Linked DNA regions of Homo sapiens. The gene in region 1 interacts genetically with each later gene. Each region holds a gene or a part of one and is shown in the gene's direction. Other genes may lie near its edges.

The links.
Region 2: changes in CTBP1 (region 1) and VPS51 together harm fitness less than expected from each alone (positive genetic interaction), as found in Homo sapiens cells (one large-scale study listed by BioGRID).
Region 3: changes in CTBP1 (region 1) and TRAPPC11 together harm fitness less than expected from each alone (positive genetic interaction), as found in Homo sapiens cells (one large-scale study listed by BioGRID).
Region 4: changes in CTBP1 (region 1) and RAB2A together harm fitness less than expected from each alone (positive genetic interaction), as found in Homo sapiens cells (one large-scale study listed by BioGRID).
Region 5: changes in CTBP1 (region 1) and B3GNT2 together harm fitness less than expected from each alone (positive genetic interaction), as found in Homo sapiens cells (one large-scale study listed by BioGRID).
Region 6: changes in CTBP1 (region 1) and TBL1XR1 together harm fitness less than expected from each alone (positive genetic interaction), as found in Homo sapiens cells (one large-scale study listed by BioGRID).
Region 7: changes in CTBP1 (region 1) and DEPDC5 together harm fitness more than expected from each alone (negative genetic interaction), as found in Homo sapiens cells (one large-scale study listed by BioGRID).

What each region holds. Positions count from the first base shown.
Region 1 is NC_000004.12:1,238,841-1,243,251, reverse strand, and holds part of CTBP1 (C-terminal-binding protein 1), read left to right. Parts: intron 1-1,732; 5' UTR 1,733-1,920; coding exon 1,921-1,927; intron 1,928-4,411. UniProt on the Homo sapiens protein: Corepressor targeting diverse transcription regulators such as GLIS2 or BCL6. Has dehydrogenase activity. Involved in controlling the equilibrium between tubular and stacked structures in the Golgi complex.
Region 2 is NC_000011.10:65,098,783-65,103,193, forward strand, and holds part of VPS51 (vacuolar protein sorting-associated protein 51 homolog), read left to right. Parts: intron 1-4,411. UniProt on the Homo sapiens protein: Acts as a component of the GARP complex that is involved in retrograde transport from early and late endosomes to the trans-Golgi network (TGN).
Region 3 is NC_000004.12:183,661,741-183,666,151, forward strand, and holds part of TRAPPC11 (trafficking protein particle complex subunit 11), read left to right. Parts: intron 1-2,106; 5' UTR 2,107-2,127; coding exon 2,128-2,331; intron 2,332-4,411. UniProt on the Homo sapiens protein: Involved in endoplasmic reticulum to Golgi apparatus trafficking at a very early stage.
Region 4 is NC_000008.11:60,519,389-60,523,799, forward strand, and holds part of RAB2A (ras-related protein Rab-2A), read left to right. Parts: intron 1-4,411.
Region 5 is NC_000002.12:62,219,280-62,222,748, forward strand, and holds part of B3GNT2 (N-acetyllactosaminide beta-1,3-N-acetylglucosaminyltransferase 2), read left to right. Parts: intron 1-2,932; 5' UTR 2,933-2,941; coding exon 2,942-3,469. UniProt on the Homo sapiens protein: Beta-1,3-N-acetylglucosaminyltransferase involved in the synthesis of poly-N-acetyllactosamine. Catalyzes the initiation and elongation of poly-N-acetyllactosamine chains. Shows a marked preference for Gal(beta1-4)Glc(NAc)-based acceptors.
Region 6 is NC_000003.12:177,033,480-177,037,890, reverse strand, and holds part of TBL1XR1 (F-box-like/WD repeat-containing protein TBL1XR1), read left to right. Parts: intron 1-146; exon of another isoform or gene 147-486; intron 487-3,565; coding exon 3,566-3,693; intron 3,694-4,411. UniProt on the Homo sapiens protein: F-box-like protein involved in the recruitment of the ubiquitin/19S proteasome complex to nuclear receptor-regulated transcription units. Plays an essential role in transcription activation mediated by nuclear receptors.
Region 7 is NC_000022.11:31,756,108-31,760,518, forward strand, and holds part of DEPDC5 (GATOR1 complex protein DEPDC5), read left to right. Parts: intron 1-2,438; coding exon 2,439-2,526; intron 2,527-4,411. UniProt on the Homo sapiens protein: As a component of the GATOR1 complex functions as an inhibitor of the amino acid-sensing branch of the mTORC1 pathway.

The sequences.
Region 1 (4,411 bases):
CAGGTGTGGGCACGTACTGGCCAGTATAGATAAGCATTGAGCAGCATTGATGGGTATCGATGATCCTCCAGGAGCAGCGGCTGGTGCCATGCTGCTGTGGGCAGTATTGAGTATTGGCCGGTCTTGACGAGCAGCAGCCGGTACTGGGCCACCGTGGGTAGCATTGATGAGTATTGACTGGTATCAATGAGTATCAGCCGGTATCAATGAGTATTGGCCCGTATCAATGAGTTTGGCCAGTATTGATGAGTATTGGCTGGCATTGATGAGTATCGGTTGGCGTTGATGAGTATCGGCTGGCATTGATGAGTATCGGCTGGCGTTGATGAGTATCGGCTGGCATTGATGAGTTTGGCTGGGCGTGGGTGGCGCGGTGCCTTGCCCCCTGGCCAGGCTGGCTCGTGGGTGAAATGTGACATTTAGGCGGTTTTCTCCTGTCCTTTTAGTTTGTTTTTATGTGGTATCCGGGTACCATGGGGAGATCTGGCATTCAGGGCAGGAGGCTGCAGCGCAGGTCATGGGGGCTCAGGCGCAGGTGATGGGGATCCCGCTCCACAGTGTTGCTCTTGGGCCCTCCGTCAGGGAGTCCCACACAGCACCTGCCATGAGGAGTGGTGTTGGGGACCCTGGATGGGAGGTGCGTGCGTGGGGCTGCACCCCAGCCCCTGTGATGGTGTCTCTGGAAGCTGGAGATGGTCGGCATGTATGCTTGAATCCTGCAGAGGGAGTTGAGGGTTGGAGATTTGTCTGCGAGGCCTCTGCGCAGGGGCGGCCTCACAGCACACTACCAGGGTCTTAGGCTTGGCTGAGTGGCCCCTTCTGGCCTGGCAGGCAGTCGTCTCAGCCCACGCCTGCCATGCTGCTGGGCTGGTGGTGGCCGGCTCCTGTCCTGGTCAGCCTGATGTCAGCTGCACGTTGGGGTCAGCCTCGGTGCTGTGTCTTCATGCCAGAGCAGGGGCCAGGTGTGGGCAGCTCAGTGACACCCTCCCGAGGGCTGGGCGATCGTGTGCACTCTCAAGCCTCTACTGGAAGGCTTGGCCCTCTCAGGGGCCCCCTGCCCCTGTGCATTCAGCCACTGGGGTTCGTGCCCTCAGCTTCCCGCCAGGCCCTGGCCGTAGCGGTCAGGAAGAGCTGAGCAGTTTTTTTGGGAGAATTGAGGGAGCGTCGCCAGGATGCACTGAGGGTCGGAGGTGGAGCCGGCGCGGCTCAGTGCAGGCAGTGCCAGGCTGGATGCTGGAAAGCCAGCAGCACCTCTCCCGGTGGCTCCTGGGAAGTTCCACGTCCTTGCCTGGTCACAGAGGCCCGGGAATCAGTGACATGAGATAGAAGCTTCCAGAACAGGAGGCAGAGCCTTTCCGCAGTTTCCCTGCCCACAGCACACACCCTGTGCCCTCCGTCCCCTGGTTCTTGGACACTGGGGACATCTGGATGCGGCTAGAGCCTGTGGGGGTGGCCGCAGCCCTGGGGGACTGTTCCCAGGAGTAGGCCTCGGGGCCACAGGGGCGCGGCCTCGGGCCTGGCACTGCAACCTCAGGGTGAGCGCCCTTCGTGTGTGCGGCAGGAGCCGGGGCCCCTGGCTGTCAGCAGGCCCCCGAGTCCAGGTAGGTCCCAGACAGCAGTCCCGGGTGTGGCAGATGCAGTGAGGTCCACTTCTGAGGCGTTCCCTGGAGTCTGTGAGTTCTGGTCGGACCTTCGATGGCATTTTAATGTGTCTCTTGTGTTTGATTTTTAGTAAGACTTTGACCCCGACGCAGGCTTCAGTGATTGCCGCGGATCAGAAGCCTGAGCACTTTGGCTCGAGACAATTAAGGACGTGGGATGAGGCTCCGAGACAGGACGCGGTTCTGCCTGGGGATCCTGAAGATAAAAAGCTTTGAAAAGTCGAATTCATGGTCGTGGAAGCTGAGCCCATATTAAGAGATGTCAGGTTGGTAGGGGTTCCTGGCGTCGGCGGCAGAGTGAAGCCGGCCGGTCTCTTTGCGACCGTGTGGAGGAGGCACTGCCTCGGATCAAGTCGAGGGACCTGGGCTGCATGGGCGTCGGGCCGGACTGCTGCCACCTGACCCCCGGTGTGCTCTGGGCGAGGTCAGGTGCCCCTCGAGGGAGGGCTTCCTGCACACCTGGTGGCAGAGCACAGCTGTGGTCAGGCCTGTCCGTGGCATCTGCTGTCTGTTTCTGTCGGAAAGTGTCTGAGAGGCACGGAGGGCCTCCATGTGGAGGCCGCCAGCACGAGGGTGGAGCCCCACACGGAACCCTGGAAATCTCAGGTGTCCACCCGGCTGGCCCAGGAGCAGGGCCGTGGCCCCTGTGGAGCTGTTCCTTGTGGTTGGTCTGCGCTCTCTGGCCCGGAAGTGCGTGCAGTCGGAAACAGCCTTGGGCTTGGGGGATGCTGCAAAGCCTGCTTCAGCACAGGCCGTGTGACTGTGAAGCCTCCTGGGTGTGTCCCCAAGCCTGCAAGGGTGGGCTGTCCGGGGAACCCTGGCACGGTGGTCAGGGGCAGCTCATGGGTGATGTGAGGAGGCACCTTGGGTGCCTGAGCCTGATGGGGCTTGGTGTCTCCACCTGCTCCCCCCTCCCCACCGTTCAGCTGAGGGACCCGGTTCCCACTCACCCAGCACCCGGGAGTCCCCCACGCGGTTCCGACGAGGGACCCGGTTCCCACTCACCCAGCACCCGGGAGTCCCCCACGCGGTTCCGACGAGGGACCCGGTTCCCACTCACCCAGCACCCGGGAGTCCCCCACGCGGTTCCGACGAGGGACCCGGTTCCCACTCACCCAGCACCCGGGAGTCCCCCACGCGGTTCCGACGAGGGACCCGGTTCCCACTCACCCAGCACCCGGGAGTCCCCCACGCGGTTCCGACGAGGGACCCGGTTCCCACTCACCCAGCACCCGGGAGTCCCCCACGCGGTTCCGACGAGGGACCCGGTTCCCACTCACCCAGCACCCGGGAGTCCCCCCAGGCGGTTCCGACGAGGGACCCGGTCCCACTCACCCAGCACCCGGGAGTGCCCCACACGGTTCCGACGAGGGACCCGGTTCCCACTCACCCAGCACCCGGGAGTCCCCCACGCGGTTCTGACGAGGGACCCGGTTCCCACTCACCCAGCACCCAGGAGTCCCCCCAGGCGGTTCTGACGCAGCCGAGCGGTCTGCAGTGATCCCGTGTGTCCATGCCTTCCTCATCAGAAGTGAAATCCAAGGATACTGAGAGCGGATGTCTATCCACTCACTCAGAAACAGCAACATAAACCTTTCTGCTCATGAGAAGTCATCACCACCACACACAGCGGGGAGGGAGGCCACGTGCAGAGGGAGGCCATGTACAGTGTCACTGGGCGGCCTGTCTATGGTGCTCGTGGGCAGCTCCCGTCCAGAGGGAATGAAGGAACAGGCGAACCAGGACGCGGTTTTGACCGTGCAGACCTCACGTTTGGGATCTGGTTTCCTATCTTGAAGGAAAGTGGGTGGAATGGCCAGTGGCTCCTCCGAGGACGCCAGGGCGCGAGGACCTCACGGGAGGGGCATGGGCCCAGCCGTACTGGGAGCCCTCGGCTTTGGGGTGGTCAGTGGAGACCCATGCCCCGTCCCCTGCAGGCGTGTGCTGCAGGCCCACTGCACCCCTGGGCTGTCCACCAGAGCATTTCTTTTCTCTGCCATGGGTTCCAGGAGGCACTTCCCTGCTTCCTGGATACTGGCAGCTCGGTGGCCTCTGCTCACCTGCAGGCGGATGGGGCAGCGGATGGGGCGGGAGACTGGGCCGAGCGTGCTTGTGGCCGCGGCCACTGGAGAGCCTGCTGGGTCACTCTGCTCCTTGGTTCTGTCGTGCGCCTCCCCTCCTGCTGGCCGAACGGTCCTGGGTACTGCTTGGTCTCCTGTGGCCGGTCTTTGGAGGAGGAGGGGAGGGACCGGCTGGGCCCTGGCCCCAGCTCCGCCTCTGCCCAGCTGCCGTGGGGCTGACAGTGGCCCCACCTGGTGCTCCCTGCCTGGCACGGGGCGGTCGGGCGGTGCCTGGAAGCTGCCATGCTTCTGTGACGCCTCAGAGCCCTTATTTCTCCAGTTGGCCCCGATGAGGCTTAGTTGCGTCATACGCGAAAGGAATGGGTGTTAATGAGCTTTAATCATCTGGTTCTGGGAAGGTCAGGGGCACAGAGTGGACTTTAACAGGTTTTAACCCTTTTCTTCCTTTGTTCTGTTTCTTTTCTCTTCACATCTATAATTGGAAGTAATGCCAGGCAGAGGGTTGGGGGCGTCCTACGTGAAACACTGGTGACCCCATCAGGGATTCCGGGCAGCCACGCGGTAGCCCAGGCAGGAAAGGGACAACCATGTTCCCAAAGTCCCGTGCTGTCATCTTGTGTCCTCCAGTGTCCTGGGTCCCTCCTGTCCCCCTGCCTCATGGAGCTGCCC
Region 2 (4,411 bases), on another chromosome or scaffold:
TGTTGGAATGTGTATAATAATATTTTGAGACTTAGCTCTTTTTGTACATCCCACAAAAGGAACAAACGTTTGGAAAAGTGTGAGGATAACCAGGAGCATTGATGTCTTAGAAGCTTAAGTGAGGGGCCGGGCATGGGGTTCTCACCCGTGATCCCAGCACTTTGGGAGGCTGAGGTGGGTGGATCACTTGAGGCTAGGAGTTCAAGACCAGCCTGGCCAACATGGTGAAACCCTGTCTCTACTAAAAATACAAAAATTAGCTGGGCAAGGTGGTGCATGCCTGTAGTCCAAGCTACTCATGAGGCTGAGGCAGGAGAATTGCTTGAACCCAGGAGGTGGAGGTTGCGTGAGGAAGGTGTTTCAAGACATAGATTTGATAGACTTGGGCGAGACACTCAGGAAAGTAATGTAGCATGGAGTGTGTGTTGATTGGGCAAGAGAGAGAGAAAAATGAGAAAGGAACTAGGTCCTCAGGAAGGAGGGGGGTGGAACAGAGCAGGGATGGAGGCATCGGCCTCAGCAAAGGGCCGGGAGCTCATCTATGGTAGCAGGAGGGGAAGCAGAATGTGGGCAGAGCCAGGCAGATAGTAGATGTGCAGTTTAACTAGAAACCTTCCAGAATGTATTAGGGATTTGGCTTTTATCCACAGAGAGCTAAAACAAATGAGTGATGTGCTCAGATTTCTGGTTTGAATAGATTCCTCCAGCTGCACTGGCAGGAATGGATGGGGCTGAGCACAGTGGCTCATGCCTGTAATCCCTGCACTTTGGAAGGCTGAGGTGGGAGGATCACTTGAGCCCAGGAGTTTGAGACCAGCCTGTGCAACATAGTGAGACCCGATATCTAGAAAAAAAAAAATAGCTGGGTATGGTGGCACACACTTGTTAGAATAAACCCAGCTACTTGGGGAGGCTAAGGTGGGTGGATCACATGAGCCCAGGAGCTGGAGATTGCAGTGAGCTATAATCTCACCATTGCACTCTAGCCTGGGTGACAGAGCAAGACCTAGTCTCAAAAAATAAATAAATAAATAAAAAGGCCAGGTGCGGTGGCTTATGCCTATAATCTTAGCACTCTGAGAGGCCGAGACGGGTGGATCATCTGAGGTCAGGCATTTGAGACCAGGCTGGCCAATATGGTGAAACCCCATCTCTACTAAAAATACAAAAATTAGTCAGGCATGGTGGCAGGCATCTGTAGTCCCAGCTACTCAGGAGGCTGAGGCAGGAGAATCGCTTGAACCCAGGAGGCGGAGGTTGCAGTGAGTCGAGATCGCGCCACTGCACTCCAGCCTGGGCAACAGAGCGAGACTCCGTCTCAAAAATAATAATAATAATAAATAATAATAAAAGGACAGCCCACAGAATGGGAGAAAATATTTGCAAGTTAGTTATCTAATAAAAATCTAGTGTTCAGAACATAAAAAGAACGTTTTTTAGCTCAGGGCTAAAAAGACAAATAACCCTAATTTAAAATGGGCAAAGGATTTGAATAGACACTTCTCCAGAGAAAACATACAAGTGGCCGAAAAGCACATATAAATATGCTCAGCATCATTAGGTCTTAGGGAAATGCAAATCCAAACCACAAAATGCTGCACCCAGTGTGGAAGACAGTTTGACCATTCTTCAAAACCACACACAAGATTACCATATGATCGGCAATTTTACTCCTAGGAATATACCAAAGAGAATTGAAAACATGTTCACATAAAAACATGTACACAAGTGTTCATAGCAGTGTTTTTTTTTTTTTTTTTTTTTTTGAGATGGAGTCTAGCTCTGTCACCCAGGCTAGAGTGCAGTGGTGCCATCTTGGCTCACTGTAACCTCCGCCTCCCCAGTTCAAGCGATTCTCCTGCCTCAGCCTCCTGAGTAGCTGGGATTATAGGTGTGCACCATCACACCCGCCTAATTTTTTTATTTTTATTTTTTGTATATTTACTAGAGACGGGATTCCACCTTGTTGGCCAGGCTGGTCTTGAACTCCTGACCTCAAGTGATCCGCTTGCCTCGGCTTCCCAAAGTACTGGGATTACAGGCAAGAGCCACCATGCCTGGCCAATAGCAGCACTTTTTATAATAGCCACAAGGTGGAAGCAATCCAAATGGCCATCAATTGAATGAATATAAACAAATATCCACACAGTGGAATATTATTCAGCCATAAAAATAGATATAACATACTGACACAGGCTACAACATAGATTAACCTTGGAAACATGCTAATGTTTCATATGCCTATGATTCCATTTCTGTTAAATGTATTCTGTAGCGAATAGACAAATCCATAGAGACAGAAACTAGATTAATGGTTGCCAAGTTCTAGGAGTGGGGGAATAAGGAATGACTGCCAAGGGTTACAGGGTTTCTTTAGGGGATGATGAAATGTTCTGGAATTACGTAGTGAGGTTGGTTGTACAACCTTGTGAATATATTAAACATATTAAAAACCACTGAATTGGTATGTCAATTATATCCCAATTAAAAAGAAAACCAGGCATTGAGCCAGATTTGGCCTGCAGGCTGTAGTTTGCCAACCTCTCACCTAGACATTGAGTTTCATTATGTAATAATGCATTTACTTGTGTCAAAATTAGAAAGATCTCAAACATTATACAGGGAAAAGCCTCTCCTAATTCTTTTCTCTAGGCAAAGACAAAGCAGTCTTTGACAGTACATTTCACTGAAAATTAACAGAGCCCAGGTGGGATTATGGCTCATACCTATAATCCCAACACTTTGTGAGGCAGAGGCAGGCAGATTGCTTGAGCTCAGGAGTTCGAGACCATCCTGGCCAACAGGTTATACCTGTCTCTACAAAAAATACAAAAATTAGCTGGGTGTGGTGTTGTGTCCCTGTAGTCCGAGCTGCTCAGGAAGCTGAGGTGGAAGGCTTGTACCTGGGAGGCAGAGGTTGCAGTAAGCCAAGATTGTGTCACTGCACTCCAGCCTGGGTGACAGAGCCAGACCTTGTCTCAAAAAAAAAAAAAAAAAAAAAAAAAAAAAGAAAATTAACAGACATACAGAAAAGTGCACATAAGTGGACAGCTCCATGGATTTCACAAAGGGAGCACAGTCACATAATCAGCATCCAGGTCGGGAAACAGCATAACCAGCAAAGCCCCCTGAGCCTCCTACCAGTTACCACCCAGTCCCCTCCCAAGGTAGCCAACATCCTCGCATCCAGATGGCTTTCACTCTCCCTGGTTACAAACTGCTTTTCTTAACAAGCTTTTTTTTTTTTTTTTTTTTGAGACAGAGTCTTGCTCTGTCATCCAGGCTAGAGTGCAGTGGCCCAATCGGCTCACTGCAACCTCCGCCTCCGGGGTTCAAGTGATTCTCCTGTCTTAGGCTTCCAAGTACCTGGGATTACAGGCACCTGCCACCACACTTGGCTAATTATTGTATTTTCAGTAGAGACGGGATTTCACCATGTTGGTCAGGCAGGTGACCTCAGGTGATCCACCTGCCTTGGCCTCCCAAAGTGCTGGGGTTACAGGCGTGAGCCACTGTGCCCAGCCTGCTTTTCTTAACAAGCTTGAAATGCAAAGATAAACAGTGTAGTCTTTGTGACTGAATGGTGTGGATGCTTTCACTGTTGTTTTTGGATATGGTACAACTTTTATCTCCAGTGTAATGGCTCCATGGCTGGGAAGGCAGCGACAATGACAGCACACAGCACTGTTGGGTTTTCTTTTACTCTATTTTCCTAACAACTTAGTGTTTGGATTTTACCCTTTAGAAGTTGGATTCAAGCTTCCTTCTTGAGGTAGCCCCTAAGTGTCATGGGCTCAAACACCCACTACCAAAAGAGTCTGCTCTTTTCATGGTAGCTTTTGGCAGACCTGGAAGGAGATTGTGTCACATGGCCTGTAAACAAAACCAGTAATTCACTGGGTGAAGACCAAATGCCTCATCAACTGCCAAGCCTCTGTCTGTCTCCCTTAGATCAGTAGCCCATGATCCCTTTACGAACCTCAGCCTCGGCTCTGCTTTTATTGTTTTTCACTGCATAGCGCTGCCTTTGCTATGTCCTTTAGTTCACCATCTATGAATTGGCAAGAAAAATTTTCTTGCCAGGCACAGTGGCTCACTCCTGTGCTCCCAGCACTTTGGGAGGCTGAAGTGGGAGCATTGCTTGAGCCCAGAAGTTTGAGACCAGCCTGGGCAACATAGAGAGACCCCATCTCTACACAAAATTTAAACAAAAATTAAAAAATTAGCCGGGTGTGATGGCGCTTGTGTGTAGTCCCAGCTACTTCAGAAGCTAAGGTAGGAGGATCACTTGAGCCCCAGAGTTCAAGGCTGCAGTAAGCTGTGTTTGCACCACTGCATGCCATCTTGGCTCACTGTAACCTCCGCCTCCCCAGTTAAGGTGATTCTCCTGCCTTAGCCTCCTGAGTAGCTG
Region 3 (4,411 bases), about 180 Mb from region 1:
ATTTTGTTTGGAATAACTTTTTTTTTTTTTTTTTTTTTTGTGGCACAATCTTGCTCTGTCACCCAGGCTGGAGTGCAGTGGCACAATCATAGTTCACTGTAACTTTAAACACCTAGACTCAAGTGATCCTCCCATCTCAGCCTCCCAAGTGGCTGGGACTACAAGTGAGCACCACCATGCCCGGCTATTTTCTTTTTTATTTCTTTTAGAGACAGGATCTCACTATGTTTCCCAGGCCAGTCTTGAACTCCTGGCCTCAACAATCCTCTGGCCTTGTCCTCCAAAAGTGCTGGGATTATAGGCATGAGCCACTTGTGCCTTACCTGAATTCTCTGTAATATGCTGGTATAGATTATCTTTTAAAAGAACCTCATTTGGGAGGCCAAGGCTGGCAATCGCCTGAGGTCACGAGATCAAGACCATCCTGGCCAACATGGTGAAACCCTGTCCACTAAAATACAAAAAATTAGCTGGGTGTGGTGGTGCATGCCTGTAGTCCCAGCTACTAGGGAGGCTGAGGCAGGGGAATCACTTGAACCCGGGAGGTGGAGGTTGTAGTGAGCTGATATTGGGCCAGTGCACTCCAGCCTGGTGACAGAGTGATACTCCGTCTCAAAAAAAAAAAAAAAAAAGAACCTCATGTTGTTACATCCTTTTGCAAGTAAGATTATATTAAAAATATAATGACAGTCTTGTTCGGGATAAACATAGTTTTATATACTTATAAAGTCAGGGCATACGTTAGATTTATTATGGACTGATTCTTAGCTAAAGGACGCAGTGGAAACATCCTCCGAGAGGTTTCCATTCATTGTTAGTTTTTCCCTTACAGATTTTTCTTTAAAGAGTAAATTTTATATTGTGGGAAATGAGACAACATAGCTACTATTTAGATAATTACATAAATTAAAGGCTATTTTAATAATATCCTAGGTATTCAGAAATTCAATATTAGCAATTACAGAGAAATTAGGGGAAGTTTATTATATGTAAGTCAACTGTTTTTCTTTTATATTTTTCTTTCAATATATTTTTCTTTTATAGTTGAAATAGATCATGTAGATCTATTTTAATTTTATCACCTTCTTGCTTTCTTGGTCTACTAATTTCAAAGTTCTGTGTGCATTTTGAGACATTACTGAAAATGCCGATTTGTCTTAAAGTTGACTTCATTTTTAACATGAAAGATTTTTTCTTAAATGTCATATAGTTATTACATTTTAATAGATCTAATTCAGGAATTAAAGTTTTCCCTTTTTCTCTCTTCTGTTTGTTTGACAGTTTGCAGATACTCAAAGCCTTTTGCCTTTTTGTAATGATTATTTTATTTATTTTATTTTTTTTGAGACAGAGTCTCACTCTGTCACCCAGATTGGAGTGGAGTGCCGTGATCTTGGCTCACTGGAGCCTCCGCCTCCTGGGTTCAAGTGATTCTCCTGCCTCAGCCTCCAAGTAGTTGGGGTTACAGGTGTGTGCCACCATGTCCAGCTAATTTTTTGTTTTTTGTTTTTGAGACAGAGTCTCCCTCTGTCATCCAGGCTAGAGTGCAGTGGCGCCATCTTGGCTCACTGCAACCTCCACCTCCCGGGTTCACGCCATTCTCCTGCCTCAGCCTCCTGAGTAGCTGGGACTACAGGCGCCCACCACCACGCCCGGCTAATTTTTTGGATATTTAGTAGAGACAGGGTTTCACCGTGTTAGCCAGGATGGTCTCGATCTCCTGACCTCGTGATCTGCCCACCTAGGCCTCCCAAAGTGCTGGGATTACAGGCGTGAGTCACCACGACCAACCAATTTTTTGTATTTTTAGTAGAGACAAGGTTTCACTGTGTTGGCTAGGCTGGTCTTTAACTCCTGGCCTCCAGTGATCCACCTGCTTCGGCCTCCCAAAGTGTTGGGATTGTATGCGTGAGCCACCATGCCTGGCCTTGTAATGATTATTTTTTTGTAATGATTTTTAAATAGAGATTCATATATTGGAAATGAATATGAGTTGTTTTTTTTTTTTTTTTTTTGAGACAGAGTTTTGCTCTTGTTGCCCAGGCTGGAGAAATGAATATGAGTTTTTAAAAATTAATTATGAATGTATTAACATTTGTATTTCAGGTTTTTTGTGACATCGTAAACATGAGCCCCACACAGTGGGACTTCCCTGTGGAATTATGTTGCCGGCCTATGGCCTTTGTTACTCTAACGGGCCTGGATGTAGTTTATAATGCAGTCCATCGAGCTGTCTGGGACGCCTTCTGTGCAAATCGGAGAGCTGATCGAGTACCAATTTCTTTCAAGGTGCTCCCAGGTGACCATGAGTATCCCAAATGTAGACCCAAGGTAATGGCATTGTGATGGCATGTGTTCTTTCCTTCTCTCTCTCTATGTGTGTGTGTGTGTCTTTTTTGTTCTGTTGTGTGTGTGGAGTTTATCAAGACAGTGGTCACAGTGGTGCATAAAGAAAGCCTTAGGCATTTTCATGTAATACACTGCATGTATATTTAATAATAGTTCTTTTTTTTTAAACTCCAGAGGAATAATTACTTTATAAAGCTTTCTATCCTATGAGCCCAGGTTTTCCCTTTTTTGTTTTTAGGAAAAAACCCAACATAGTCCCCTCTAAAAGGAAGGTCTTGCATTCCCCACCATCATTACTAATGTCGTTTTTGAATCCCATGGTCTGTGCAATGTGGCTCAATTTCACAGATTTTTTGAGCACTTGCTTTGTGATAGGTACCTGGAACCATGCAACAAGCTAGTGATACGAATTTAAGTGAGACAGGTTCCCTATTCTTGAGGAGTTTTACATAAACTAACACAGTTTATTCATTGCGGAATGAAGAAAGGTATTAAGTTCAAAACTGACTTTTAAGGTGAACGACATAGTAAAGACGACTTTACCTTAGATAATAATTATTATCATGATGATAGTATCACTAATAGCTAACATAGTTGTAAAAAAACAGTAAAACAGTTTACTGTTTTAAGCAGTTTATGTGTAGTGATTTGTTATTTATCATAATCTTATGAGGTTGGTTTGAAAGTTAGGTGATAAAACCCTTTTAGTTCTGACCCCTATCCTTTTTTTTTCTTTTGCCCTAGAGCAGTGTCTCTGACATAGTAGTCTCTGGACCAAGTATGTCATCATAACCTGGGGTATTTATTAAAAATGTAGATTGCAGCCCTCCTCTTTGGTTTCTGGGAATATAGGACTTGGTCACCGGCTGATTATTTTTGTGTGTGTTTGAGAACCACACGACAACATTTCATATACTCAGCCCTGGAAACTGAGCTCTCTGAAATTGTGCAAGTAATAGCATCCCAGCCCTGGCCCTCACACGATTATTTTTCTTTTCTTTCTTTTTTTTTTTTTTTTTTTTTGAGACGGAGTCTCGCTCTGTCCCCGAGGCTGGAGTGCTGTGGCGCGATATCGGCTCACTGCAAGCTCCGCCTCCTGGGTTCGTGCCATTCTCCTGCTTCAGCCTCCCGAGTGGCTGGGACTACAGGCGCCCGCCACCACGTCCAGCTAATTTTCTGTATTTTTAGTAGAGACGGGGTTTCACCGTGTTAGCCAGGATGGTCTCGATCTCCTGACCTCGTGATCTGCCCACCTTGGCCTCCCAAAGTGCTGGGATTACAGGCGTGAGCCACCGTGCCAGGCCTACATGATTATTTTTCTTTAGTGTCATGTTTGTGTCAAGAAGGCAGGGAGCCCAGCACAAGCCCTCTTTTCTCTTAATGCTCGAATTCAAGCTGCTTTTCATTTCTCTATTCCCAGCTTTTGGCTGAGTCCCCATGTTATTTTGTGTCAGACTTCCTTATTGACCTCATCTTTCCTTGCTGGAGGTAGACATTGGATCACCATGAAGTGGAGTAGTCTGAGCCAGCACAGCTGATTTGGAAGGAATGTGAGGTTTCAACTGCATCCCTCAGGGCTAACACTCAAATCTACAGCATCCTCTTCCCACTCTGTGGCACTCAGTGCCCAGACTCAAGTGGCTGCTGTGAAGCTTCTGTTTAAGAATTGTTCTCTGCTTTGTACTTCATCTACAAGTGAGGTGAAATGCATCACAGCAATATGTCTTTGAAATAAACAAAGCCTATTGGATTTTAGATAATATTTTATTTGAGCAGTTTTACAAGAACAGAAGCTGGAATGGTGAAGAATATAAGTAGAATTTACCTGGAAATGGGCTACTTTTTTTTTTTTTTTTTTCTTTAGCAAAGTATTTGAGACCCTTGACATCATTAGACATGCATCATCGTTTTATGCATTCAGTTATGGGGCTGATAGAAACTCTTTGGCTTCAGTCATTCTTTAAATGGGAAGTATAGCTTCTCCAGGGTTGAGATTCCACCTTCAACACTTACTAGTTCTTACTGAATCTGTAAGCCTGAGTTTCCTAATCAAAAATGGGAG
Region 4 (4,411 bases), on another chromosome or scaffold:
CTGGGCACTGCTAGTCTCTATTCTTAGAGTGCTTTCCGGCACAATCTCTCCCTGTGGAAGATCCATCAGTCCTTCAAAGTCTTATCTGAGTTTTCCGTAATGCCTTCACAGTCAACATATATTAAGCTCTTATTGTGTGAAGATTTTCACAGTATCCTGGCTGAAAGTGACTACTCCGTTTCTGAATTTATGTTTCTCACTTTGTGTCATTCTTCTGATATTGATCCCAGACTTTTCTGTTGTATAGATACTTGTATAGGCACCTCTATTATGTAGGTACCTATTATATACTTCTTGAAGTCAGAAAAGATGTTTTGTATGGCTCTGTATTTCTTTCAGGAAGAGCGTAGTAGAAGGTAGGCCCTGTATATTTAACTAATAAGAGAGGAGCCAAACAGGCTACTATATTCCTGTTTGTATATATTAATAACTTAACAGAAGTGGTGTCGTTGTTGTTGTTGTTGTTGCCCAGTTCTGCCACCTTCTTGCTTACTAATTTGGGCAAAATCCTTTACCATATTTCTTTAATGCAGAGTGTACCCATAGTTGTAAGATACACTCAGTGTGGCCCTCCCCTAGAAAAGATGACTTTAAAATCAGTAATGTGAGATCCACTTTGATTTTTTAAAAAGTCAGGGTCAAAAACATGCATCTTAGAATGAAGGAAATCACCTAATTTTTCTGTTTCCCTGTTTCCGTAACCTATAACCTTCTCTCAGTATGTGGGATAAAATGAGGATAAATGTGAAAGTACTTTGATTTCTCAAAGGAAAGGAACAATGCACATTTTTCCTTTTCAGAATTCCCTCTTTAATAGAAGAGGTTTTAAAAACTTTTACATGATCATGATGATACTATTGAGCTGTTTTCTTACTGTAAGACTAAATGCAGTTAAAATGTAGCTTTAAATTTTTTCCTTGTTCCTGTCTTGTTTCTGAATCATTTAGTAAAATGTGTCATTTAAATCTAGATGTAAAGTGGAAAGTGGTTTTTAATAAGCAGTTAATTATCAAGCATGGAGAGAAAAAATACGAATCTATAGTAATTTTTCTTCTGAAATTCTAGCATCTGCCAACCATTTTAACCTTATCACTAACCCTCCCTGCTGCTCAACGCTCAGCAAGGTAAACAAAGGCACAGGTTTGGTTGTGTTCTTATTTCTGCTAATATCTGAAGCACTCCTTCTTGTTCTTCCCTATCAAAAAAAGTTATGTCAAAAATTTTTGTCACCTGGCCAACTCCTTTTTATCCATTCTTTTGAGAGTTTAACAAATCCTACCACTCCCTGTTGCATTTTATGCTGGTCCCCTCCTCTCTTCCCTCATTCTGTTTCCCTTCTCTTCAGTCCCAGTCCCACTTACATTTTATTTTTTATTTTTCACTCTTATGTATATACCCACCACTTCCATTTTATTTTATTTTACTTATATTATTTATCTATCTATTGAGACATGATCTCTGTTGCCCAGGCAGGAGTGCAGTGGCACTATCACGGCTCACTCACTACAGCTTCAGTCTCCTGGGCCTAAGCAATCCTCCCACCTAAGTCTTCCAAGTAGCTGGGAACACAGGCACATGCCACCATGCCTGGCTAATTTTTAAATTTTTGTAGAGATGGGCTCTCACTGTGTTGCTCAGGCTGGTCTCAAACTCCTGGGCTTAAGCCATCCTCCCACTTCAGCCTCCCAAAGTGCCAGATTACAAGCACAAGCCACAGCTCTCAGCCCCACTTGCATTTTAAATTATCTTTTTAGTTAGGAAGGTCTTTGCCTTTGTCTTAGATGCCAGGGTACACCATTGAGTGTCAGATTTATTTAATAGTTAAGTGGATGGATCCTTGAGGGGAGGCACTAGGTGATGTTTCAGCTGAAATTAGAATGATGAGTAGGCACCGCCAGAGTGGGCATGGGGGAATGTCTGGTATGTAGTTGAAAGTTTATTTCTGGCTCAGGAGAGAGTAATCTGGGATAGAGACTTGGGAGCTAATAACATAAAATGGAGTCCCTATTACCTGAGAGTTCATTTTCTGAGCTTTTGAAATTACAAGGTTATGTAGGGAAGAAAAATTCTCATGATATGAAAATAATTATTAATAAGTTATCACCTTAAAAAATTAACTACTCAAGCTTACTTCTAATTCCCATCCTCCTGATTGGCGTAGGGGCTTGCTGATCATAATATAGTTCAAATTAGTTGCAAAGTGAAATTATGTATCATGCTAAAATTGCAAGCATTTGTTTCTTTTTTTTGAGATGGAGTTTTGCTCTTGTCACCCAGGCTGGAGTGCAGTGGCGCCATCTGGGTTCACTGCAACCTCCACCTCTTAGGTTCAAGCGATTCTCCTGCCTCAGCCTCCCCAGTAGCTGGGATTACAGGCGTCTGCCCCCACGCCCAGCTGATTTTTGTATTTTTAGTAGAGATGGAGTTTTGCCATGTTGGTCTGACTGGGTCTCGAACTCCTGACCTCAGGTGGTCCACTCACCTCGGCCTCCTTAAGTGCTGGGATTACAGGTGTGAGCCACCGCGGCAAGGCAGCATTTGTTTCTTTGATGCAAGTGATTTGGAGCATTGGTTCACATGCAAAACCATTGACAAATGGGGATCTGACAAAGTTGTCCTCCTGGAATGAAGTAGGTGGTGATTGTTCATTGAATGAATTGACAGATGAAAGCTTGGATGTAATGGTGGGAAATACTAGTGTTCATGGGGCACATGGGGAAAGTTATCAGCATAGTAGGCTAACAAGGAATAATCAAAAGAGCAAGAGAGACCTGGGCAGTACAGTGTCATGGAATCTGCAGAGAAGGCAGATCCCAGAGAGGGAGTGGTTACCAGTGTCATGTGCAGTAGAGGTCAGGGACTATTGGTTGAAATGGTAGGAAGACATTAGTGCTTTGACACAGTGTTTGATTCAGATGTCAGTGAGGGGGAGAACTAAGGTGTATTTTCATTTATGTTGTTAAAAAACTGTGGATTTTTATATATGTGTAAATAAAAAAAGTCCCAAGACTACACACTTAACCGTTACTTCTGGGGAGGAGAGTAGAATTATATGCTTATATTGATTACACTGAAAGAGTTGGTGTTGGTGAAATGGGGCTTTTTATATTGTAGGGTCCTCCTACTTTCTTTTTTAAAAAAAAATTTAAACAATATCACACATAGTATTGGTGGTTTTACAAAAAGAGTTATTGGGAAGTTACAAGTAGAACCATGCATGGGTTATTTTATTGAAGAATAAATGTGAGTGTGTGTTTGTATTTTAAGATAGGAGAGACTTGAGGTTGAAAGGTTAAATACAAGAGAAGGGGAGGTAAGGAGCAAAGTTGTAGAGGATTTGGGGAAGGATTGGGGAAGGAAGGGGATTAGATTCTCAATAGCTCTAGAGAAAAACAGAAGGAAGACCTCTTCCTGTGGGAGACTCAAATTTGAGTTTCTTTAGATTCTTGTGAATCACTGGAGTGTTTGTTTAAAAAAAAAAATATTCAGCAGCCCAACCCCTAGAGATTTTGATTGACTAGATTTGAGGTGGAGCTGAATGTTGCAAAACCTGCGGCCAGAAGTACTAGTCATTTTATTTTATTATATAAGCAGATTTGTTAGAATTACCTTCAAAAAACAACCTGGGAAGTTCAGAGGTAGAAAAATTCTATTAAAGCTTTTTTATTGAGATGTAGCATGCATATAAAAGAATATATAAAATACATATACACAGTTTAATAGTTTTAAAGAATAATGATAAACACCCATGCAAAAGGACTCCACATTCTTTTTCTTTTTTTTTTTTTCTTGAGACAGTCTCGCTGTCACCCAGGCTGGAGTGCAGTGGCGCAATCTCAGCTCACTGCAACTTCTGCCTCCTGGATTCACGCCATTCTCCTGCCTCAGCCTCCCGAATAGCTGGGACTACAGGCGCCCGCCACCACGCCCGGCTAATTTTTTGTATTTTTAGTGAAGACGGGCTTTCACTGTGTTAGCCAGGATTGTCTTGATCTCCTGACCTCGTGATCCGCCCGCCTCTGCCTCCCAAAATGCTGGGATTACAGGCATGAGCCACCACGCCCGGCCAAGGACTCCACATTCTTACATATGTCTCTTTCTCAACCAGTTTTCCACTGGCCTGAATTTTATATTAATCCTCCCCTGCTTTTCTTCATAGTTGTATCACTTATGGATTCCTAAACTGTATTATTTAGTTTTGCCCATTTTTAGATGTGCTTAGCTGTTTCATTTATCAAATGAGAGCTGAAACATATCTTTTAACATCATTTACAATTTAGATGATATACTTTTGTTAACCTTCATTTTTTTTTTTTTTTTTGAGACAAGTCTCGCTTTGTCGCCCAGGCTAGAGTGCAGTGGCGCGATCTCGGCTCACTGCAAGCTCCGTCTCCCGGGTTCACACCATTCT
Region 5 (3,469 bases), on another chromosome or scaffold:
GAGTTAAATTTTTGCCGGGTATTAAGCTGTTCATAGTATGTGCTGTTTTTTCCTGAGTAGTTTTGCTCTGTCACCCAGGCTGGAGTGCAGTGGCACGATCTCAGCTCACTGCAACCTCAGCCTCCCAAGTAGCTTGGACTACAGGAGTGCACCACCATGCCTTTTTTGTATTTTTAGTAGAGGCAGGGTTTTGCTGTGTTGGCCAGGCTGGTCTCAAACTCCTGGCCTCAAGTGATCTGCCCACCTCGGCCTACCAAAGCAAAGTGCTGGGTTTACAGGCGTGAGTCACTCTGCCTGGCCCCTTTGCAAATCTTTTTCTTCATTGTAGTTTTTCACCATCACACATTTCCTGTTGCCCTTCCTTCCAGACTAGGAAGGGCCTGAGACCTAGAGACAGCAGTACTGGGTCAAGGGCTCACTTTAGCATTAGGAGAATTGTCCCAAGTTAGAGAGAACCTTTTCTTTTTGAGAAGTATTTGAGAAATAACTGGAGTTATCACGGAAGTCTCCAAAGGTATGAGGTTAGGTTTTTCAAGAGTAGTTTTGTGGGCAGGGGACCAGGGAGTGGGTGCTGCTGATTGGCTGTGGATGCAATCAAAGCCATGTGCTGAGTCTGCAGGGGTTGGGGGGAGTCATGAGTCTCTAGTCTGGGTGGGGTAAGTCTGAGAAACATTCAGAAGACCAATCTTAGTTTCTATAATAGTGGTGTTAACTACAGGAGCACTTGGGGAAGTCAAAGATCTTGTGGCCTCTGGCCACATGACTTCTGAGCAATACGGGATTATAAAAACTGTGCTTACATTTTAGCAGAATTCAGGCCCCTCTCAATCCTAATCTTGTGACCTTTCATTAGCCTCAGCCCCCTGAACAAGGAAGGGATCAGTTTTATGGAGGGACTGTTACCATCTTTGCTTCGAAGTTAAACTGTAAACTAAATTTCTCCCGTGGTTAGCTTGGCCTATGCCCAGGAATGAGTGGAGACAGCTAGCCTGTGAGGGTAGACGCAAGATGGAGTCAGCCATGCTAGATTTCTTACTGTCCATAATCTTTGCAAAGGTGGTTTCAGCAGTAGTAAATACAAGCAACCAGATAAAGGTCTACTAGGCAGATCTTTACAGACACACAATAGCTTGTGAATTCCTGTTGATCTCATCTGGGCTCTCTAATATGTAATAGTTTTACAGCATTCTCAGCATGACAAATATTTTTCTACTTTACCGTTTGTTAGAATCCAGTGAACTTAAAAATCCTCTCCTTTCAAAAAGCAAATACTAGATTAAAATAGTTGCAAAGCTTTCTTTTAGGGATTGGAGAAGTGTAGCTACCTTTTGGCATGGTACAGACTTGGAATCTGTTTGCCTTGGCTGGTATTCCAGTCTGCCCTTCTTTAAATGTGTACCTCCTCAGGTATAAAATGGGAATGAGTAATAGTACCTAAGGATAAATTCCCAGTTGAATTAACCTGATAAGAAAATCTTCAGCTCTTTATAGAACATTGCCATCCCACTTTTTTGGGCTATCTTTTAATGTCACCTTGGTTTAAATGTTCATTCTTGTATAGGTCATCCATGTCAATAGTGTTAGAACCTTGGATATCCCCAGCAAACCATCTCATTACTCATTCTTTATTCTTCCATTGCCCACAGCCTGAAATCTTTTGATATTTCACTAAAATATCATTTGTATTTCCCTTTTTGCTACAAACAATAGAGATCTTAAATATACACTTCAGGTTTGACATATGCATACATCCGTGGAGCCTTCATCAGGATCAAGACCTACATGGTACATTTCTGTACCCCAGGAAGTTCCTTCCTATCCTTCTCTAAGCCCACCACCTCCATCACTTTCAGATTTCTAGAACCTAAATTCATTTTGCCTGTTCTTGAAGTTAATATAAATGAAAATTTGGGTCTGGCCTTCATTCACAATGTAATGTTGTAATGTTTCATCCACAATAGTTTCCCTTTCTATTGCCGAGGGGATATACCATTGTATGCAGATGCCACAGTTTGATCATCTGTTCTGTTGATATTGGGCTGTTGCCAGTTCTTGGCTATTGGGATAAAGCTGTCCTGAGTCTGCTTTCATTTTCTCTGTCTGAGATGCTCTGTGGTTCCTGTCTCCTGCTTCCTAGCCCTGCAACCTTGGGCAAGTGTCTTAATCTCTCTGCTTTGGTTTCCTTATCTGTAAAATGGTAGGTTGGAAAATAACTCAGGGTTGGGACTAACATTAAAAAAAAGAGAGAGAGATAGGGTCAGACATGCCTATAATCCCAGCACTTTGGGAGGCTGAGGTGGGAGGATCACCTTAGGTTGGGAGTTTGAGCCCAGCCTGAGCAACGTAACCAGTCCCTGTTTCTACATTTTAAAATCTCAAAGTTTTTCAAATGAAATAGAAGAGAACTTGAGAGTGAATGACATGGAACTGCACACAATGCGTCACACATGTAAATAGAGTTTTGTGTATGTATGTGTATACTAAACACAGTATAAAAATGTATTTGTTATAATTTAGGCAAATCGGTTTGCCAAGCACTGTATGTGCCATTGTAAGCAAGGAAGTTGAACTCTCCTGAGGTTATTTAGTAATAGGTATTTCTAGCTTCAGCATGTCTCAAACAGTCACTTACATAGTGCTTGCTGTGAGCCACGCGCTATTTTAAAAGCTTTCCATATAACATCATATACTCACAACCATCCTTTGAAGTGGGCTTGATTCCCATTTTATATATGGAGAAGTTGAGACAGGGACTATCCCACTTGCCCATGATCACAAAGCTAGAAAGGAAGGGCCAAGATTTGAACCTAGGCAGTGCAAGTGTAGAGTCTTTGCTGTAAACCACTATTCCTGGGGAGACAGGTAAAATAAATTGTATGTGCAAATGCAAATTGATAAGTAATTGATACAATACTCCACCCCTTTATTCCAGATATGAGAAATGAGTGTTGGACGTCGAAGAATAAAGTTGTTGGGTATCCTGATGATGGCAAATGTCTTCATTTATTTTATTATGGAAGTCTCCAAAAGCAGTAGCCAAGAAAAAAATGGAAAAGGGGAAGTAATAATACCCAAAGAGAAGTTCTGGAAGATATCTACCCCTCCCGAGGCATACTGGAACCGAGAGCAAGAGAAGCTGAACCGGCAGTACAACCCCATCCTGAGCATGCTGACCAACCAGACGGGGGAGGCGGGCAGGCTCTCCAATATAAGCCATCTGAACTACTGCGAACCTGACCTGAGGGTCACGTCGGTGGTTACGGGTTTTAACAACTTGCCGGACAGATTTAAAGACTTTCTGCTGTATTTGAGATGCCGCAATTATTCACTGCTTATAGATCAGCCGGATAAGTGTGCAAAGAAACCTTTCTTGTTGCTGGCGATTAAGTCCCTCACTCCACATTTTGCCAGAAGGCAAGCAATCCGGGAATCCTGGGGCCAAGAAAGCAACGCAGGGAACCAAACGGTG
Region 6 (4,411 bases), on another chromosome or scaffold:
ATTAAAATGATGGCTTGTGATACAATGAGACATATGATACCCTATTAGTTAGGGCTCTCCAGAGAAACAGAACCAATAAGAAGATGGATGGATGGATGGATGGATGGATGGATGGATGAGAGATTTACTGTGAGAAATTGACTCACGTGATTATAGAGGCTGAGAAGTCCCACAGTCTGCTGTCTACAAGCTGGAGACCCATGAAAGATGGAGGTGTGGTTCCATTCCAGGGCCAGAGAAGGAGTGCCAATGGTGTAAGTCCCAGTCCAAGAGCAGAAGACCAATATACCAACTCAGCAGTCAGGCTGAGGCAGAGAATTCTTGCTTCCTTGGCGGTTTTGTTCTGTTTAGAGCCTCACTGGACTGAGTGATGCCCCCCCCGCCGCCCATTGGGGAGGGTGGCAGTCTGCTTTTCTCAGTCAGCTAAGTTAAATGCCTGTCTCAACTGGGAACACCCTCAGACACAGCCGGAAATAATGTCTCACCAAATATCTGTACCCTGTGACTCAGTCAAGAAGACAGATAAAATTAGACATCACCAATAGTAAGAAAGGTCATGCTATAAATTGTCTTCACCATTAGAAAGTCATATGTTGAGGCAATTAAAGTTTATTTGCAATTAAAGTTTATTTGCATATGTAAAGATTTGACTTAATAAGTACTCAAAATCTTTGTAGCATTCATGGATTTGATTGGAATTCTTTGCGTTGTATTAATTTGATTTTGCTGTGGTATGACTATGTATCACCATTGCTGGGAAACTGATACATAGCAGAGAATCTCTCAGTGAGCGAGCCTAGTTGACATACCAACATCCACATCTCAACATGGATCTCTGTTTTTCTTGTTGTATGACTAAAAGCAAAACTGCTGTCTCGCACCTAAGCACACCAGATTCCTCATTTGGGGAAAAAAGCATTTGGAGATAAAGAACAACGTAATACTTATTTCCAAAATAAATGAAGCTTTGAGCCCTCTCCTGCAACAGCTAACCCTCTACTGAAAACAGTTTTATCCTTGACTTTGCAGTACCAAGGACTGCAGATGTGATGACCGTTACAGATATGAAAATCATGAGGGAAAACTGATTTTCCTGCTACTATGAACAGATTAAATTTAACTTTGCGAAACTTGTGAGGTTTTCTCCTTTAAGTATCTGCTATGTTTTTAGACAGTTCTTCTTAAGTCTGGGCTCCCTTACAAAATTGCTAGTATTAATACTCTTCTTAATGCTTTCATCTTTGGCTTTTCCTTATGTGCACACGTATTAATGCTTATAACATGAAAAAAACTTCTTCTGGAACTGTGTGTGACACATATGAGGAAATGACAGAAGGGCAGTGTCCAGAGGGCCTTGTGCCACATATTGAGTTGAAGCTGGAGAGAGGTTAAAACTAGAAATTGTTAGAGAGCTTTTCTTCATCCTAAGAATGTTTAAATGTCACAAAGGATTTTAAAGCAAAAACTAGGATGGATGGATAATGTGTAATGGGCCGTTTTCTGAGAAGAGGGAATGCCAGATGGAATGAGAAGGTGACGCTGAGTCATGCGAATGGAGGAGATAGGTGGGACTGATGCTTAGAGAACTGTAAGCTCAAGATTAAAAACTGGGAATTCTCAGCAGATAGGTGGTCTTTAAAATCCTTGGGCATGGCCAGGCCTGGTGGTTCACTGTTGGGGTTCAATCAGGCTGGTGGGAAAAATATTAGAGATAGTTATAGAAATAGACACATATCTTCTTGGAAAACTGAGAAGTAACTTCAGTAATAGATCTGGCTGAACGCGGCCTGGTTCCTTTACCTTTAGTTAAACAAATTAAACTAGTAATAAAGGAAGGCAGGGTAGTTTACCTAGCTAGCTTGTTTACTCATATAATATTAAGACTAACCTTTGATGTGCCATGGGTGCTTAAGTGCTTTTTACTTGGGAAGTCCACAATGTCAGTTACCCTCTAATGGTGTTGACTCAAGCCTTTGTGAATTAATCTTACTGAATAAATTTGAGTCTCACTAGCGGATAGGGCCATGGTCGCAACTGTTTACAGAACTCTCCAGGGAGTCTGTAAATGGCTCGGACACCCTCAGCTGGACTGGCGAAACAGGATATCTGTGTGTTAGTGTACTTTATTCATCCATTGCTGGGTCAGGGTCTGCAGGCAGACACCCACAGCTAGTGCCCCCATGTTGCCACAGCTCATGCCTATAATTAAAGCACTTTGGGAGGCCGACGTGGGCAGTTCACTTGAGGTCAGGAGTTCAAGACCAGGCTGGTCAACATGGTGAAACCCCATCTCTGCTAAATATACCAAATTTAGCCGAGCGTGGCGGCAGGTGCCTATAATCCCAGCTACTCTGGAGGCTGAGGCAGGAGAATTGCGTGAACCCGGGGGACGGAGTTGCAGTGAGCCAAGATTGTGGTGCTGCACTCCAGCCTGGGCAAGAGAGTGAGACTTCATCTCCAAAAAAAAAAAAAAAAAATTGGGGCAGGGACAAAACTGTGTAGGTAGTACAGAGTAAGAAAAGAGGGGACCTAAAAAAGTGAGTCTTAGAAACTCTAACAATCACCAAATCAAGAGGGATGAGCTTTCCAAAGGAAACTGAGAAGGTGACTGAGAAAGTGGAAAAAGAAAGTATGTAGAGGAAACTTATTTCAAGGGAGGTAAGAGTTGAGAGTGGCCAACAGTATCAAATTCTATGAATTAGAAAGGTCTAATGAAATCAGTTCTGAAAACATGTCGTTCAGATTTATTTTACTTGGGGTTGTAAATACATAGGGCACCAAAAACACTCTGATGCTTCATTATCTTTTAATGGTTATGTCACGGAAATGTAAAGTTGAGCTGATTTTTTTCTTGGTTGGCCCTCCTTGGGTTTGGCATGTTGTATGTGTATGTGTTAAGGAGATAACTGCAGGACCTACCATGTCTTTATTGAGTGATTTTTTTTTTCCCAGAAATACTCTTCGTGTTGATTTCTATGAATTTTTGCTCAAAAATAATAGTCACTTGAAATCTATACACACAGGCATATTTTCATCTCAGGAAAGGCTTATTCTCTACTTTGACTACTTTTTTCTACTTTTTTTTTTTCCTACTTTTCATTTGAGCTTTATTTCCTATGCTACTTTTTACGGTTCTCTGTGAGTCCTCATTATTTATAAGTTGGTTATTTATTTTCAGTTCTCCATTGTAAAATTTTCCTGATTCTAAAATTCTAAGAGCAGTTTATTATGTAGATCTTTTGCTTAAGGGACAGTGTAAAAACTGTGCCTTCAACATTTTAGGATCGTTAACTAATCTCAGAACAACTATAGTTAATTCAGTCTTCAAACTTTGTAATAGTGAATATTTTTAAAGGGCTTAAAGCTAACTTTTTTTTTTAAACAGAGATGTAAATATTAAATATATCCTATTGCATTTCAGTTTCTTTGTAAATATTCTATCATCATTCTGGTTATATCACTCATGTTTTAGACTGTCCATATAATATTTTAAGTGTCAAAATAATATTTTAAATATACTCATTGTATGGAAAAATAATTGTATACATTTTTCTTTTTTGTTTAGATATGGAGTATGAAACAAGACAATTGTGTCCATGATTTGCAAGCACATAATAAAGAAATTTATACTATCAAATGGAGTCCAACAGGACCAGGGACTAATAATCCAAATGCCAACCTTATGTTAGCAAGGTGATACTTCTGTTTCATTTTTCCTTTTATGAGTCTTCTACAAATCAGACTTCCAATAGATATGACAGAAGTTTAGGGAAGATTTCATGAAGTGGAAACTTTTTTTTTTTTTTTTCCAATTTCAGTAGTTTTTGGTGTATAGGTGGTTTTTGGCTACAAGAATAAATTCTTTAGTGCTGATTTCTGTGCACTGGTTTTGCAAGCAGTGTAGTGTACCCAGTGTGTAGTCTTTTATTCCTCACCTCTCTTCTCAGCCTTCTCCCCACTCCCACCTCCAGTCCACAAAGTTCATTATATCATTCTTATACCTTTGTGTCCTCATAGCTTAGCTCCCACTTACAAGTCAGAACATGATATTTGGTTTTCCATTCCCGAGTTATTTCACTTAGCATGATGGCCTCCAGCTCTATCCAAGTCACTGCAAAGGACAATATTTTATTTCTTTTTATGGCTAAGTAGTATTCCATGGTGTATGTATACCACATTTTCTTTATCCACTTGTTAGCTGATGGGCACTTACGTCGGTTCCTTAAGGGGAATCTTTAAACACTGAGTTTTATTATTGTTTCAAGTTATAATGATATTCTATATTGAAATAATCAAATATTGACTGATACCAAATACTGATTAAAATCCAAGCAATTGAGGCATAGCAAAATCTTCAGTATCTTTAGAAAAAAAAAAGATAAATGGAAAAATGTGGTCACTTTGGTGTTCA
Region 7 (4,411 bases), on another chromosome or scaffold:
CCTGAGCTCAGGCAATCCGCCCACCTTAGCCTCCCAAAGTGCTAGGATTACAGGCAAGAGCCACCGCGCTGGCATGAGTCTTTTTAACATTGTATTTTAGGGTGTATTTACTTCTACATTATGTAGGTATAAGCCTCCAGAGGGGAAGGACTGCCAAAAAGGGAAAACAATAGTTTCTCTATCATAGAGCATTGTGAGGCTTAAGTAAAGTGATACATGTAATGCATTTAGCAGAGTGTTAGACTCTGTGCTCAATAAATGTAGCCATTGTAATTACCAGGCTACAGGCATTGCTATATTTAAACTACAATTTCTGCTAAAATGCACAGTCTATTGTTATTACTTTGATGCTGTTGATGTTGCCTAAATATTTGTGGAGTGGAATAAAGCAAATAACTTTTGGCAGAGAAAAGAATACAAGGATACAGTATATACAACGTATACAAATACATGTTTTTATGTATAAAATACAAAGGTAGTTAGATGCTGTATCCAGTCTTCTGCAAGACTATAGGTCAAAATACAACTAACAGCTGGACATGGTAGCTCATGACTGTAATCCTGGCATTTTGGAAGGTCAAGGTGGGCAGATCACATGAGGTCAGGAGTTCAGGACCAGCCTGGCCAACATAGTGAAACCCCATCTCTACTAAAAATACAAAAATTAGCCAGGTGTGGTGGTGCGTGCCTGTAATCTCAGCTACTAGGGAGGCTGAGGCACGAGAATTGCTTGAACCCAGGAGGCAGAGGTTGCAGTGAGCCGAGATCATGCCACTACACTCCAGCCTGGGCAATAGAGCAAGACCCTGTCTTTAAAAAAATAAAAAATAATAAAAAAAAAAGAAACAACCAACAGATATTTATTAGGTGTATACCTGTGCCAGACGTAATGATTATGAATGCCACAAGGTTCTTTGTCCCTAAAGAGTTTTCAGTTTGGTAAGATAGACATGCAAAAAGGAAATGATAAAACCAAGCAGAAGGGGATATGTTCTCAGGGACCTTAATTCAGACTATGTAAATTAGGGAGGAAGCTCCAAAGAGCATTTGTCGTGAAACTGTCAGTGGAAACATAGCAAATAAAATTAGGGATTGCTGGGTGCAGTGGTGTATGCCTGTAGTCACAGCTACTCAAGAGGCTGGGACAGGAGGATCACTTGGGCCCAGGAGTTCCAGACTATAGTACATTATGCTGATTGGGTGTCTGCACTAAGTTCTGCATCAATATAGTGACCTCCCAGGAGTGGGGGACCACCAGCTTGCCTTAGGAAGTGTGAACCACCTCAGGTTGGGAACAGAGCAGGTCAAAACTCCTGTGCTGATCAGCAGTGGGATTGTCCCTGTAAATAGCCACTGTACGCCAGCCTAGGCAACAGCAAGACCTTATCTCTAAAAGAAAACAAAAAAATTTGGGAGTAAGCCAATGTTTCATTTTACTAGGCTAAATTTTTGTTGGGTCTGATTATATTTGAAATCTAGATAAACTTAATTGTCATGATATTAGCATAATTAAAGGTGATGTCTTTCCTTGCAAATTAAAACAGCAAAACAGTCATTCTGTCTTTATGCTTCTGAGTTTGCAATATTTGATAGAGTTCTCCCCATCCCTAGTAGAGGGGCAGGGGTAGATAAACATGAAACCACATCCCTCTTATTTTATTTATTTATTTTTTTGAGATGCAGTCTCTTTCTGTCACTCAGGCTGGAGTGCAGTGGTGTGATTTCGGCTCACTGTAACCTCTGCCTCCCGGGTTCAAGTGATTCTCCTGCCTCAGGCTCCCAAGTAGCTGGGATTACAGGCTCCCACCACCACACCTGGCTAATTTTTGTATTTTTAGTAGAGACGGGGTTTCGCCATGTTCGCCAGGCTGGTCTTGAACTCCTGACCTCAGGTGATCTGTCCATCTCGGCCTCTCAAAGTATTGGGATTACAGGCATGAGCCACTGCTCCTGGACTCTCTGAGGTTATTTTCTTACTCCTGTTAGATCTAAAGATTTATTGTGACGGTCACATTAAGACACTGTTTGGGAAATTCTTTGAACATTGAATAACTGTAACGAATTGTGCTGTATCTGTGGGAACCAGCCTGTTTTGTTCCTGTTATATGCCAGATACACAATATTTGAGGGGGTAAAAGGCTGTCCAGAAGCCTAATTCCCAGATACTAAGGGCTGCTCTGCCCCTGGAAGCAGTGCGGTAGTAGAAAGGGCACAGGGTATGGAGACAAAGGTACCTGAGCGCCATCCCACTCTGCTGCTGTGTAGCTTGGTGTTCCTGTGTGAATCCATTAGTCATTGTAAGCCTCGTTTCAAAATAGAACCTCATCTGTCAATGGGGTGGCAATACCATCCTGATGGGGTTGTGAGGAACCAGTATGAGAACATACAGTGTACCTAATGAGTGTTTTTCTACTTGAAGTGGCTGAATTGTCTTTCAGATGATGAGCTAGTTGTGAACCCCAAAGTGTTCCCTCACATCAAGCTTGGAGACATTGTAGAGATTGCACACCCCAACGATGAATACAGGTGAGTGTCTCATAGGATCCATGGAACTGGGCAATTCACTGTTTCCAAATGATGTCCAAGGCAGATAGCTCTCTTTGCCTTTCAAAATGCTCATGCTGTGATGGCTCAATCCTGTAATTCCAGCACTTTGGGAGGCTGAGGTGGGTAGGTCATTTGAGCCCGGGAGTTCGAGACCAGCCTGGGCAACATAGAGGGACCCTGTCTTAAAAAAAAATGATCATGCCTTCTAGGATTTGATCAACAAATAATTTTTCAAAAGTGGTCCATTCCTTCGTTTTTTTTTTTTTGAGATGGAGTCTAGCTCTGTCACCCAGGCTAGAGTGCAGTTGTGTAATCTCAGCTCACTGCAACCTCTGCCTCCCAGCCCCAAGTGATTGTCCTGCCTCAGCCTCCTGAGTAGCTGAGATTACAGGCTCAGCCTCCCGAGTAGCTGAGATTACAGGCATGCGCCATCACGCCCAGCTAATTTTGCATTTTTGGTAGAGACAGGGTTTCACCATGTTGCCCAGGCTGGTCTTGAACTCCTGACCTCAGGTAATCCACTGGCCTTGGCCTCCCAATGTGCTGGGATTACAGGTATGAGGCACCGCACCTGGCCTAATTTTTGTGTTTTTTAGTAGAGATGGGGTTTCACCATATTGTCCAGGCTTGTCTCAAGTCATCCATCCTGCTAGGCCTCCCAAAGTGCTGAGATTACAGGCATGAGCCACCATACCGAGCCGTTTTTTTTGTTTTTTTTGTTTTTTTTTGTTTTTTTTGAGATGAAATCTCACTCTGTCACCCAGGCTGAAGTGCAGTGGTGGGATCTTGGCTCACTGCAATCTCTGTCTTCCGGGTTCAAGCCATTCTCCTGCCTCAGCCTCCTGAGTAGCTGGGATTACAGGCGCGTGCCACCATGCTTGGCTAATTTTTGTATTTTTAGTAGAGACGGGGTTTCACCATGTTGGTCAGGCTGGTTTCGAACTCCTGACCTCGTGATCCGCCTGCCTTGGCCTCTTAAAGTGCTAGGATTACAGGCATGAGCTACCTTGCCGCGCCCAGCCTTTTTTTTTTTTTTTTTTTTTTAAGAGACAGAGTCTCGCTCTGTCACCCAGGCTGGAGTGCAGTGGTGCCACCTCGGCTCACTGCAACCTCTGCCTCCTGGGTTCAAGTGACTCTTCTGCCTCAGCCTGTCGAGTAGCTGGAACTACAGGTGTGGGCCACCACACCTGGCTAATTTTTGTATTTTTAATAGAGACAGGGTTTCGTCATGTTGGCCAGGCTGGTCTCGAACTCCTGACCTCAGGTGATCCACCTGCCTTGGCCTCCCAAAGTGTTGGGATTATAGGCATGAGCCACCGAGCCCAGCCTCTTTCTGGTTTTAAAGCTGAGATGACAACTGAAAGGTTCTGTAGCATTTGTCCATTTCCTTTAGTGCGTATGGAGTTTCTTTGTTTCTTTTTTTTTTTTTGTGAGACGGAGTCTTGCTCTGTCGCCCAGGCTGGAGTGCAGTGGCACAATCTTGGCTCACTGCAAGCTCCACCTCCCGGGTTCACGCCATTCTCCTGCCTCAGCCTCCCAAGTAGCTGGGACTACAGGCGCCCACCACTATGCCCGGCTAATTTTTTTGTATTTTTAGGAGAGACGGGGTTTCACTGTGTTAGCCAGGATGGTCTCGATCTCCTGACCTCATGATCCGCCCGTCTCGGCCTCCCAAAGTGCTGGGATTACAGGCATGAGCCACCACACCCGGCCTAATTTTTTCTATTTTTTAGTAGAGAAGGGGTTTCACCGTGTTAGCCAGGATGGTCTCGATCTCCTGACCTCGTGGTCCACCTGCCTCGGCCTCCCAAAGTGCTGGGATTACAGGCGTGAGCCACCGCACCTGGCCGAGTTTCTTTGTTTC